Homo sapiens: one gene and its partners. The protein of the gene in region 1 purifies or fractionates together with the protein of each later gene. This does not show direct contact. Each region holds a gene or a part of one and is shown on either strand. Other genes may lie near its edges. The genes, in order: MOV10L1, AASDHPPT and AGXT2.

The links.
Region 2: the proteins of MOV10L1 (region 1) and AASDHPPT fractionate together in Homo sapiens (co-fractionation; one large-scale study listed by BioGRID). This does not show direct contact.
Region 3: the proteins of MOV10L1 (region 1) and AGXT2 purify together in Homo sapiens (affinity purification with mass spectrometry; one large-scale study listed by BioGRID and IntAct). This does not show direct contact.

Annotation. Positions count from the first base shown.
Region 1 is NC_000022.11:50,092,902-50,096,555, forward strand, and holds part of MOV10L1 (RNA helicase Mov10l1), read left to right. Parts: intron 1-3,654. UniProt on the Homo sapiens protein: ATP-dependent RNA helicase required during spermatogenesis to repress transposable elements and prevent their mobilization, which is essential for germline integrity.
Region 2 is NC_000011.10:106,087,623-106,091,276, forward strand, and holds part of AASDHPPT (L-aminoadipate-semialdehyde dehydrogenase-phosphopantetheinyl transferase), read left to right. Parts: intron 1-2,934; coding exon 2,935-3,056; intron 3,057-3,654. UniProt on the Homo sapiens protein: Catalyzes the post-translational modification of target proteins by phosphopantetheine.
Region 3 is NC_000005.10:35,044,996-35,049,259, reverse strand, and holds the start of AGXT2 (alanine--glyoxylate aminotransferase 2, mitochondrial isoform a precursor), read left to right. Parts: upstream 1-1,310; 5' UTR 1,311-1,367; coding exon 1,368-1,455; intron 1,456-4,264. UniProt on the Homo sapiens protein: Multifunctional aminotransferase with a broad substrate specificity. Catalyzes the conversion of glyoxylate to glycine using alanine as the amino donor.

The DNA of each region.
Region 1 (3,654 bases):
TTTTTGTTTTTGTTTTTTTCTGAGACGGAGTCTCTGTCGCCCAGGCTGGAGTGCAGTGACGCAATCTCAGCTCACTGCAAGCTCCGCCTCCTGGGTTCACGCCATTCTCCTGCCTCAGCCTCCTGAGTAGCTGGGACTACAGGCACCCACCACCACACCCAGTTAATTTTTTTGTATTTTTAGTAGAGACGGGGTTTCACCGTGTTAGCCAGGATGGTCTGGAGCTCCTGACCTCGTGATCTGCCCACCTCAGCCTCCCAAAGTGCTAGGATTACAGGTGTGAGCCACCGCGCCCGGCCTCATGTTTTTTCTATGAATTATTTTTGGGTCCTTTGTCCACATTTTTGTTGAGTTCAGCTTTTTCTTTTGTTAAAGCTTATATATTAGGGAAATCAGAGCTTTTTAAGGAAAATTATTATATGAAAGTGTTAGGAATATTTTCCCCAGGATCATCTTTGACTGTGTTTTATAGTTTCATTTTTTGTAGTTAAGTGTGCCTCTTTTCCATGTAGCTTTTGGATGCTGTAAGAAGCCTTAGGGAGGCTTATTCCACTTCTTATTCCTAATATTCAAATTTTACTCTGAAAATTGTTTATTGACAATTAGAATTTTTTTTTCAATTTTTGAGACAGAGCTTTGCGCTGTCGCCCAGGCTGGAGTATAGTAGTGCGATTATAGTTCACTGCAGCCTGGAACTCCTGAGCTCAAGCGATTCTTCCACCTCAGCCTCCTGAGTAACTGGGACCACAGGTGTACACCATCATACCTGACTAATTTTTAAAATTTTTTTGTAGAAATGGCGTCTCACTGTGTTGCGTAGGCTGATCTGAAACTCCTGGCCTCGAGTGGTCCTTCCACCTCGGCCTCCCAAAGTGTTGGGATTACAGGCATGAGCCACCATGCCTGGCCTGTTTGTTGATATTTAAATATTTGACCTGCCTGGAATTTATTTGGGTGCACAGACTGAGAGAAGGAACCAGACATTGCTTTCCTAATGGCTAGCCAGTCATCTGAGTAGCTCACTTTTTCCCTGCTGATTTGGAAAATTCCTTAATCATGTATCAGAATCCCACCTGCATGTGATGTGGTCCTGATGCTTGTAAGGGGGCCCCATGGCATGGTTGCTGTGATAGGTGGTGAGCAGGTTTCCCTTCTTTGCTCTTATTAGCATATGGTATTTTTCTGGCTCTTCACATGTTCTGGATGAGTTTGGAATCTTGTTTCTCCCCCTCTGCCCAGATTTGCTTTGGATGGCACTGAGTTTATGCATTTCATTTAGAATAATTGATATTTGGGTCATATGGAGTCTTTTCCATATGTCTGTCCATTTATTTAAGCCTTCCTTTGTATTCTTTTTATAGTTCAATAGTTTTCTTCTTTTAGGTCCTGTAAATTTCTTACTAAATTTATTTTCAGGAGTTTTTATGTGTTCTATTAACATCATTTTCCATCGTATTTTCAAATTAATCTTTTTCTTCCTGTATGGGAAAGCTTTCAATTTTTTTTTTTTTTTTTTGAGACGGAGTCTCGCTCTGTCACCCAGGCTGGAGTGCAGTGGCATGATCTTGGCTCACTGCAAGCTCCATCTTCTGGGTTCACACCATTCTCCTGCCTCAGCCTCCAGAGTAGCTGGGACTACAGGCGCCTGCCACCACGCCCAGCTAATTTTTTGTATTTTTAGTAGAGATGGGGTTTCACTGTGTTAGCCAGGATGGTCTCGATCTCCTGACCTCGTGATCCGCCACCTCGGCCTCCCAAAGTGCCGGGATTACAGGCATGAGCCACCATGCCCAGCGATTTTTAAATGTAATTTGGAATCTGGCAAACGTATTGAGCTATTAACTACTTTTTAAAAATACTTGAGATGTACTTTATTATACTATTATAGTTAGTACCATCTAATGCTTAGTATCATCTTTCTCAAATTAAAAAAAAAGCATACCCAATAAAATAATTCAAAGTCTAGAATTCCATCATTCAATATGGTAGCCACCACTCATGTGCAGCAGTTTCGATTTATTAAAACTAAATGCAACTTACAGCCAGGCGCGGTGGCATAAACCTGGAGTCCCAGCACTCGGGAGGCTGAGGCGGGAGTTCGAGACCAGCCTGGGCACATAGAGACCCTGTCTCTTAAAAATAAATAAATAAAAGTGTTTCCTCAGTTTCCCTGGCCACATTTCAAGTGCTAACTGAAGCCTAGTGACTACCAAATTGGGCAGCACACATAGAGAACATTTCTGTCAGCTCTGGCTTAGAGACTGTGAATGCAAAGTAGAAGAGCCTCCCTCCACGTTCCCCACCTGCACTTTCATGCTGCAGACCTGATGCTCTTCTGGGTTTCTGTTTCTACCTTATCTGGTAGATAGTTGAGTCACTTAAACAATATGCTTGTATCTTTTATTAATTCACCAATGTTAGTATTTATGGACTTCCATCATCAGAGATGTACAACTGGCTCATTCACACTACCCTCTTTTCCTCTCCCAATTATTTAATTATATTTTTTCCTCCAAAGATTTCCTTTTGAACTTGAAATTATACGATAGTCCTCATGTTTTTGTGTGTATTTAAAGGAGTACTCTGGGTTCAGAATCTTTGAAAGAGGATCTGGAACCCAGAACCTGTAGAGATGATGTTTACCTCATTCTCTGAGCTGTGGTCGTGTACTCACACGCGGCCTTCCAAAGCAGGTTCTCATACCAAATTCCCGTTGATTTTAAGATACACCATTAATTTGATAATGAAAATTTAAAATGGAAACGTAGGTTGTGAGACTCATTCTGATCTCAGAAATGTGACAATGTGGAAAAACTGGCCCCTGGGTGTCCAGCAAATCCCAGCCCTCTTGGTGGTCAGCTGCCCTTCACTTGTTCCATCTTGTAAGGAATGCAGGACCTTTTTTGTTATGGTGAAGAGGGTTCATCTCTACTCACAATCTTGCTTTTATAAATTAGTAATGGATTTTTCAAGTACTTTTCAGTATCTTCCAAATGATCCCATAGTTTCTGTCCCTTTGCTATTAATATGGTGGAAAATACAGTTTCTGTGTTGTGAGCCGTTCTCACTTGATGGGAATGATCCCCATTTGGTATAAACCTGAATGTACTTCTGGATTTATTTTTTATTTAGATATTTTTCTTGTGGTAAAATATGCGTAATATACCATTTTAACCATATTGAAATGTACGGTTCAGTGGCATTAAGCACGTTCACATTGTTGCGCAGCCATCACCACAATCTGTCTTCAGCACTTTTTCAGCATCCCAGTAGACACTCTGTACCCATTAAACAGTTATTCAGTGTTCTACTTTATGTCTCTATGAATTTGCCCATTCTAAATACCTCATATAAGCGGAATCATGTGTCTGGCTATTTGACTTCTGTTTTCAAGATTTGCCCATGTAGCATGTATCAAAAGTTAATTCCTTTTTTATGGCTGAATATTCCATTGTGTGAATAAATCACATTTTGTTTCTCCATTCATCTGTTGATGGACACTTGGGTTGTTTCTACTTTTTGGTTGTTGTGAATTGTGCTGCCATGAACAAGTCTGTCTGAGTCCTTGTTCAGTTCTTTTGGGGCTACGCCTAGGAAGAGAATTGCTGGGCTGTATGGTAAGTCTAGGTTTAACTTTGTGAGGAACCAGATGTT
Region 2 (3,654 bases), on another chromosome or scaffold:
CTGAGGTTCTGGATTTTTTTCCGTAGGCCTGAAATAGTTGCTCAAGGCATTGGATCTAAATGATTTTGTTGTATGTTACTACTGTGTTTAAAATAAAACATTAGTTGCTGGGTGGTCTTGATTAGTTAATCATTCCAGAATACAATATCTAACACTGCTCTCCCTAATGATCAAGCTATAAGATGGAAGATCAGGTTTTTCTAAATTTGACTGATGATTCTCTGTGTATGTAATGGTATTATTAGAACTTGCCAACGTATGTGCAGTAATTGTGCTGTCTTCAAATAGTTTAAGGGACAAATTCACTGTTCTTCCTACCGATTTTTCTTTATTCCAGTTTCCTAGGTAAACTGCACTTAATACTTAACACAATATTTGCCCACTGTATATCCACCATAATGCCACAGTGTGGCGCTGCTGTGCTTTGGCCGAATATTTACGAAATCACCTTTTCCTATTGCTGTCAAATTTTTTATTTTGTGGACTAAATAAGATGCTCTAAAGTATATGAAAACGCACTCGTATCGGATATTTTTTGGCTGTACATAATGAGTTATGTGATTGCTTTCTAGTGATTGTGCCAGATTGATTGCCTTTTATGTTAATCAGTTTTTTAATAGCATGCTTATTTAAATTTTTTTCCTTGATTGCCCCATCTTATTTAGTTAAAAATCAGAAGGCTTCTTGGAGGTTATAAAAATAAAATTTGAAGAAAGCAGCAAGCAGAATGACACTATAGATGACAAAATGCGTATCTTTTTAAATGCAGATTTTTTGGACATTAATCTGTTAAAACTACAGTTTCACTCAAAATATATAATGCAGGCTTCCAAACCAAAAATAGTTTATTCCTCCCATTATTGTTACATATGCTGTTTGTGCCAAAATCCATTCAACAAGAAACAGTTTTTGATTTTTGTAGATATAGTGTTCCCAATGTTTAAAATTTCCAGATTTACTTTTGTTACTTCAGAAGCTTTCTGTCTTTACTTTCTTTGAAGTGTTCTTTAAGATGTTACTTATCAAGCCAGTATGTACTATTGATGCATTGAACAAAAAAGTTTTTATTGAGGGGCTTCTATTAATGTTAGTCTCAGGAAGGTGTTGAGGAGTAAACACCAGACAACAAAGGGATCCATGGCCCCAAAAGGGGTAAGAATTTCTTGCCATTGAACTCTTAAGATCACAATTTAATATTTCGGTGCCTAAAAATGAATGAGGATTCTTATTTTGATCCATAGTACCACATATCAGCAACAGGATCGGCAGAAATACTTCCTGATGAACTAAGAGGAGACTATTTTGACTCTTGAAGCGGGAGTACTGGGAGAATCATAACTATTTCATGACAGAACCGATTTTTAATATACTCTACCCTTGAGATGATTGTGGGAAAGGTATTTGGTTACTGCAGGAGAAACTGTAAACTCTCTGTGAAGATAAGGACCATGTCTGTTTTGCTCATCATGCGGTTCGTGGTACCTAGCACTTGTATGCTTTTAGTGAGTGATCATAATGGAATTCTAATTGTTGAATTCTCATAGAGAGAATTAGTGATTAAATGCCAGTGAAGTATTAAGGGGATGTTCAACATCTTCAACATCTTTTTTCTCCACATATTTATTTACATAAGAAATGCCCATAGAGTGTGTGGTATCAGCTATCATAAGAATTGTGTTAATCATTTGAGAATGTCAAATTTTGGAGTTGGTTATTTTAGAAGTGGGAATTGGAGTAAGCCCATATTAACAGAATCCACAAAGGGATTACCTTCAAAAGGTTTTCTGGAAAATAATGTAATAATGAACTAAGGATACAGGGCAGAAGAATATTTAGGAAATAATTTACCATATAATAGTTAACATTCATGTATACACTTAGTAAATGTTTGTGGTTCACTTACCTTGGAACAGGCTCTCTGATAGGCCCATTAGGCTGTAAGTATAAAAGGCAAGAACAGTGATCAATTTACTTTTAATATTAGTTGAATATGTATTTGTGTAAATATTTATACATATTATGCATATTTATATAAAATGAATGATGGTAGAAAGTTTGTGCTTGGTGGTAAAGACACACAAACACATAATTTTAATGTTTTGGAAAATTCAGTACCAGAGGCCTACCATGAATTTTAACATGTATCTTACCCCTTGGTTCTGGGAATCAGATCCTTTGAGTTGTATCTTTTGTCATTTATTTTTAGAATGCTATGTAATATTTTGTTATCTATGAAATAGTGGCACTAAAGATATATTTCAAGTTTTTAAAAATGAGCTTATTTTGCAACTGCAACCACGAAAGAGTAATGAAAATCTTTTTATTTGAATAAGTCATATTAGAAAACAAGTTGGAAAACATTTTGAAGAAGGTATTAATTTTTTAGCCGTGGCAATAATGTAGAATAAAAGAACAGTTTTCAGCTTTCTGCTAATTTTCCAAAAATTGTAATAAAAGAATTATTCCCTTTTTTTCTCTGTTACATAACAAAATAAAACTTTAGAATAATATGGCTCTACTTTAGGAGTATTTTAATTGGGCTTCTGATAAGTATCCTTTTATATAAGAAATTTCCTGTTATTTAAAATTTATAACAGCTTTGGCTGCTAAATTTTATCAAAACTTTTTGGGACATATATTGATACAACCATATGGTTTTCCTGCTTACTTAATAATTTACAGAATATCACCAATTCCTGTTAAACTACTCTTATATTTCTGGGCTAACCACTGCTTGTCATAGTGTGTTTACTCTTTTAATTTTCAACTTGCTTTGACTTGCCGAGATTTTGTTTAGGATTATTTTAAATGTATTCAAAAGTATGGTTGCCCTTTAGATCTTTGGGGGGTGCTGTCTTGAACAGTTTTAGTAATAGAGCAACTTTTTATTTTTTAATAGAACTGCTATTTAATTTTTTATTTCTTAATTGGCAGGTCGTGGTTCAATTCCAGAATTCTTTCATATTATGAAAAGAAAGTTTACCAACAAAGAATGGGAAACAATCAGAAGCTTTAAGGATGAGTGGACTCAGCTGGATATGTTTTATAGGAATTGGGTATAATTCTTTCTAATTTTGAAAGCAAAAGTCTATAATGATTCCATTATCTTCACTTAAAATCAGAGTCCTTGGTTACCCAGTAGTGTCCAAACAGTGCTTGAAGTAAATGGGTGATTGCTTGAGAATTTTATGGTTTTTATGCATATGGTATTACATTATAATGACATTTCATTTTAAGAAAATTTAACCTATATGTAATGCTCAGTTAGAAAGTACTTACTTAAAGCTAAAACAAATCATTACCATTGATAAATAATATTTTCTGTCATAAAGGAACTAATACACATGAGGTCCTATATAACAAACACTGATAATATATACTACATGCCAGAAGACATTACTTCAAGCTCTAAGTTAGTTAATTTAATGTACATAACATCCCTATGAGGAAGGTATTGTTATCATCATCGCAGGTTACATACGAGGGGATACAGGCACGGAGAGCTTAAATGATTTGCCCTAAGATCATATGGATGGTTTGTTTTCATGCTGTAAGGGTTTTTTTTTAAAAAGGTTATAGCTATATAGCCATAATGTAGTATAGCATTGAAACTCCCTATCTTTTGGACCTGTAGATTCTATGAAAAATTTTTGT
Region 3 (4,264 bases), on another chromosome or scaffold:
GAACTCAACATTTTCTCCCCTCTGTCCAACCACAGGACAGACTGTGCACCCCAGGGAGATGCTGTGTGTCCACTGGCCTCACTGACTTGGATTACTCCTGCAGCACGTGACCAGCCAGCTCATATGATCACTCCCTACTGCCCCCAAAGCAGAATTGACTGGGAGCTGGAAACCCACACAAAAAGGGACAATTATATTGAATGTAACATACTCCCTCTGCTTACCTAGTGCCTTCACCTCCTATGGGCATTTGGAGTAAAAGGTTGTTATGCAGGTGTTTGTGAAGGATGTGGCCAAGTCAGTTGTCTCCCTTACAGGGTGACCCAAGATTAATGATATCTACCCATCCCCAGTCCCTCGACCCCCTAGTTGCAATCAGCTTTGTCACTGTCCCCCTTAGGCACTGCCATGTAAAGCACGTGGTCCCCCATTCTGAAGCAGTGGGAAACCTAGAAGAGATGTACTCTTCGCAACCTGGTTGGATCTTAAAAACATGGTTCTAACTGAAAAGAAAAAAGACATATTACACATATTTACATAAATTAAAACTGCATTCACCCTAAACAATACACATTTTACAAGAATGCGTTCCAACAAAAGGATATATATAAGCATGCTAAATACTTGCTTATGGGGATTGAAGGTAAGGGGAGGCTGGAGTGGGATAAATAGGAATTTAAGAAATAATGAAAATAAGGCACACTAACTCCTTAGCTCTCAACCTTTTGCCTTCCTCAGACACATAAGATGATCCACAGCTGTCCAGAACCTTACCTAGCTATTTGGTACTCTCAGCTTTTCTTTGGAATGGCTCCTTCCCCATTGTTTTCTCCTCTCTTTCTCTAAGACCCCCAAAACCAATTTATTTGTTCATTCACTTCATGCATATCTTCCTTTTTCCTCTCTTAGTCACATACCTCGTTTCACAATCTCCGACCCCTTCAACCATGTCCTGATCCTTCTCCCACACCCAGCACCACCCTCCTGCAGAGAAAAGTGTACCCGGATGAAACTCCGATGGAATATTAAACTAACAGAACTTGTCAGATGACCTTTGCTTTATCTGCCTGCTTTCTTTCCTCTTCCCTTCTGTTCTCTTCTTTTCCTTTCTTTTCTCTCCTCTTCTCTCTCTCCTTCCTATTTTCATTCTATCTCTTTTCCTCACTCTCTTTTTCTCCCCCTTGAAGGCACTGTTACTAGAAATAGAGAGCTCTGGGGCTTGCCTGAAGCCATGGGCAGTCACCACTCCAGGATTCCCCTTTTAGCGCCTCCTCCCCATCTTAATCTCAAAGTCCAGCAGGATAGTGAGCAGTTAGAGCCCGGCCTCCAATCTGCTTCCATGGGGGTTGGCTTTCTGAGTGGGAGAAATGACTCTAATCTGGAGACATTTGCTGAGACCCTTGTGCCTGGTCACTTCCGCTCCCAGGATCCTTGAGATGCATCCTTTCCTGAGCCGTAAGTGGAAACCAGGGGGACGTGGGTCAGTAGAGGATCAGCGAGAGGGTAAGACTTGAGCTCCGAAGGCTGCTGCCTGGGATTCTGGAATGTTAGACCTGGGTGAGGTCTTAGAGATGAGGCATGTTTTTGACACACAGGTTCTCACCCTGAGTCAATGCCCCATTTTCATAGCCAATATTTTGTAATGCTCCTTTTTGTTTTGAAATGAAATTCGTGGATAATGAAACCCGACTATACACAATTTCAACATGACATGCTATCTCAGCTTCAATATTTTTAAAAACCAAAGGAAAGCAATCAAAATAGAGTGTGACTTCAATTTACAGATGCCCAAGGATGATTTCTATTTTTTCTTTTTTGAGACAGGGTCTCCCTCTGTCACCTAGGTTGGAGTACAGTGGTGTGATCATGGTTCACTGCAGCCTTGACCTCCAAGGCTCAAATAATTCTCCCACCTCAGCCTCCTGAGTAGCTGGAACTATAGGCACATGCCACCATGCCTAGCTATTTTTCTTTTTTAACTTTTGTAGACATGGGGTTTTACTATGTTGCTCAAGTTGGTCTCGAACTCCCGGGCTCAAGCAATCCTCTCACTTCAGTCTTTCAAAGTGCTCGGATTGCAGGCCTAAGCCATTGCACCAGGCTAGGATGACTATTTTAAAAGATGTAAAGCATCTGCATGAATTTTCATCATGCCTCTAGGAAGTGAGACCACGCTCTCAATTGCCAACAAGTGCTGTGATTCACCCAGAGTCATCCAAGCCAGGGCTTGACCCCAGGCCCTCCCCATCTACTCAGACTCTCCTCTCTGCAGCAAGAACAGAAAATATGAGGAGATGTGGGGTAACCAGACATTGGTGGCTTTATGAGTAATATCCTATATGCTTGTGATTTTCACATGGATCTTGTTTCACGAGAGCCTCACCTCCTCCTCAGCAAATTCCCTCATGCAAACATGAGATTAAGCAACTGTCTGTACATTTATGTGCCTGTGCTTCACGGGCCGTAAACAGGTACAGGGGACCATTTTACATTCCCCATTGTGACCAACTTTGCCTTCATTTTCTCCTCATATTTCCCTTTCACCCTCCTTCCTTCCTCTCCTCTTCGCTTTCTTACCCCTGAAAATTGCAGTTTTTTGAAACTTGACACATGCATGATGCTTTAAATGCATTATCTCCTTTTATCTTCAACCAAACTTGTTAGTGAGTACTATTATCTCATTCCACAAATGAGGAGACAAGAGAATAAGGAATATCTAAGAAATGTGGTCAAAGGCAGAAACATGTATGTGATAACTTGGGATTCAAAGCCAGGTCTATCTGACTCCGAACTCGAAGAGATTCTACCAGGCCCTGTCTATCCTCCCCTAGTCTTCCAATCCTGTTTGGACTGCTCTTTTCCCTTGGTCATGAGTTTCTTTTGCCAGAACATCACCTAACTCCAACATTTTCTCAGAAGCAGGTAAAATTATAACCAGTCTTATGCTCAGTGAGGAGGAAATTATGCTGAAAGTACCAGCTGTTGACCTAGCAAGAGAAATGCCCTAGACTGCCCCCTCCCCTTCCCTACCCCAACCTCTGAACATTGTGGAGTTGCACAGTGGAGCAGCAGGTAACCTAGAGAGGGCAGGTGAGGCCTAGTACCTAGAGATCTTGAGCAACTCGTTGGCGACGCCTTACCATAGGCCCAGCAAGGACACTACAGGGAAGCAGTCTTGGAAAACCACACCACTGGCCGGGTGCGGTGGCTCACACCTCTAATCCCAGCACTTTGTGAGGCTGAGGCGGGCGGATCACGAGGTCAGGAGATCGAGACCATCCTGGCTAACACGGGGAAACCCTGTCTGTACTAAAAGTACAAAAAATTAGTCGGGCATGGTGGCGAACGCCTGTAGTTCCAGCTACTCAGGAGGCTGAGGCAGGAGAATGGCTTGAACCCGGGAGTCGGAGCTTGCAGTGAGCGGAGATTGCGCCACTGCACTCCAGCCTGGGCGACAGAGTGAGACTCCTTCTCAAAAAAAAAAAAAAAAAAAAAGAAAAAAGAAAAAGAAAAAAACCACACTACCTAGACTGAATGCTATCCTCATCACCTGGCCTTGCAAAAACCTTTGGGACTTTTATGTCTACTTTCTTACCTACTCTACCTAGGTCTGTGCCTGTTTGTGCTTGCTCATCCAAACACACACTCACTAACATACATTTATTGAGCACCTGCCATGTGCAATATATACATTCAGGCAAAATATTTGAGCATCTATTATGCACCAGTGCTGCAGACTTAGCCACAATAAGCAAGAAAAAGCTCCTGCCCTCTATTCCAGGAAGGAGATAGACATAAATGAATAAGTAAATATGTAAAAATATATATGTGTGTGAATATGTATGTATTTATGTATGTATCCAATAGAGACACATGCCATGAATAAAACCAAATCTGGAAAGGGAATAGAAAAATATAATGGGGGTGAGGGGAGGGGCTGTGATAGGGAGGTCACCACGTTTTAAGTGTTGTTTTATATGCAAAAATAAATAAGTCACAATTCTTGTATAGTATCTACATAGTTACTGTACAATATTCATATGCATAAAATGTTCAGCTTTGTTTACACTTTGATATGCACAATCACTTTGGGCTAACTGTGTATACAAAGTTATGGAAGCAATTTGTTTTCAGTACAAAAGTGTGGAGAAATATCTCAGTGGGGCATTCTTTCCTACAATTAGCTAATGACTGAAATATATAACATTTGCAGGTGGCTGGGGTATGTGCTCCCATGTACCAATTTCCTAATATATGCCTGCTC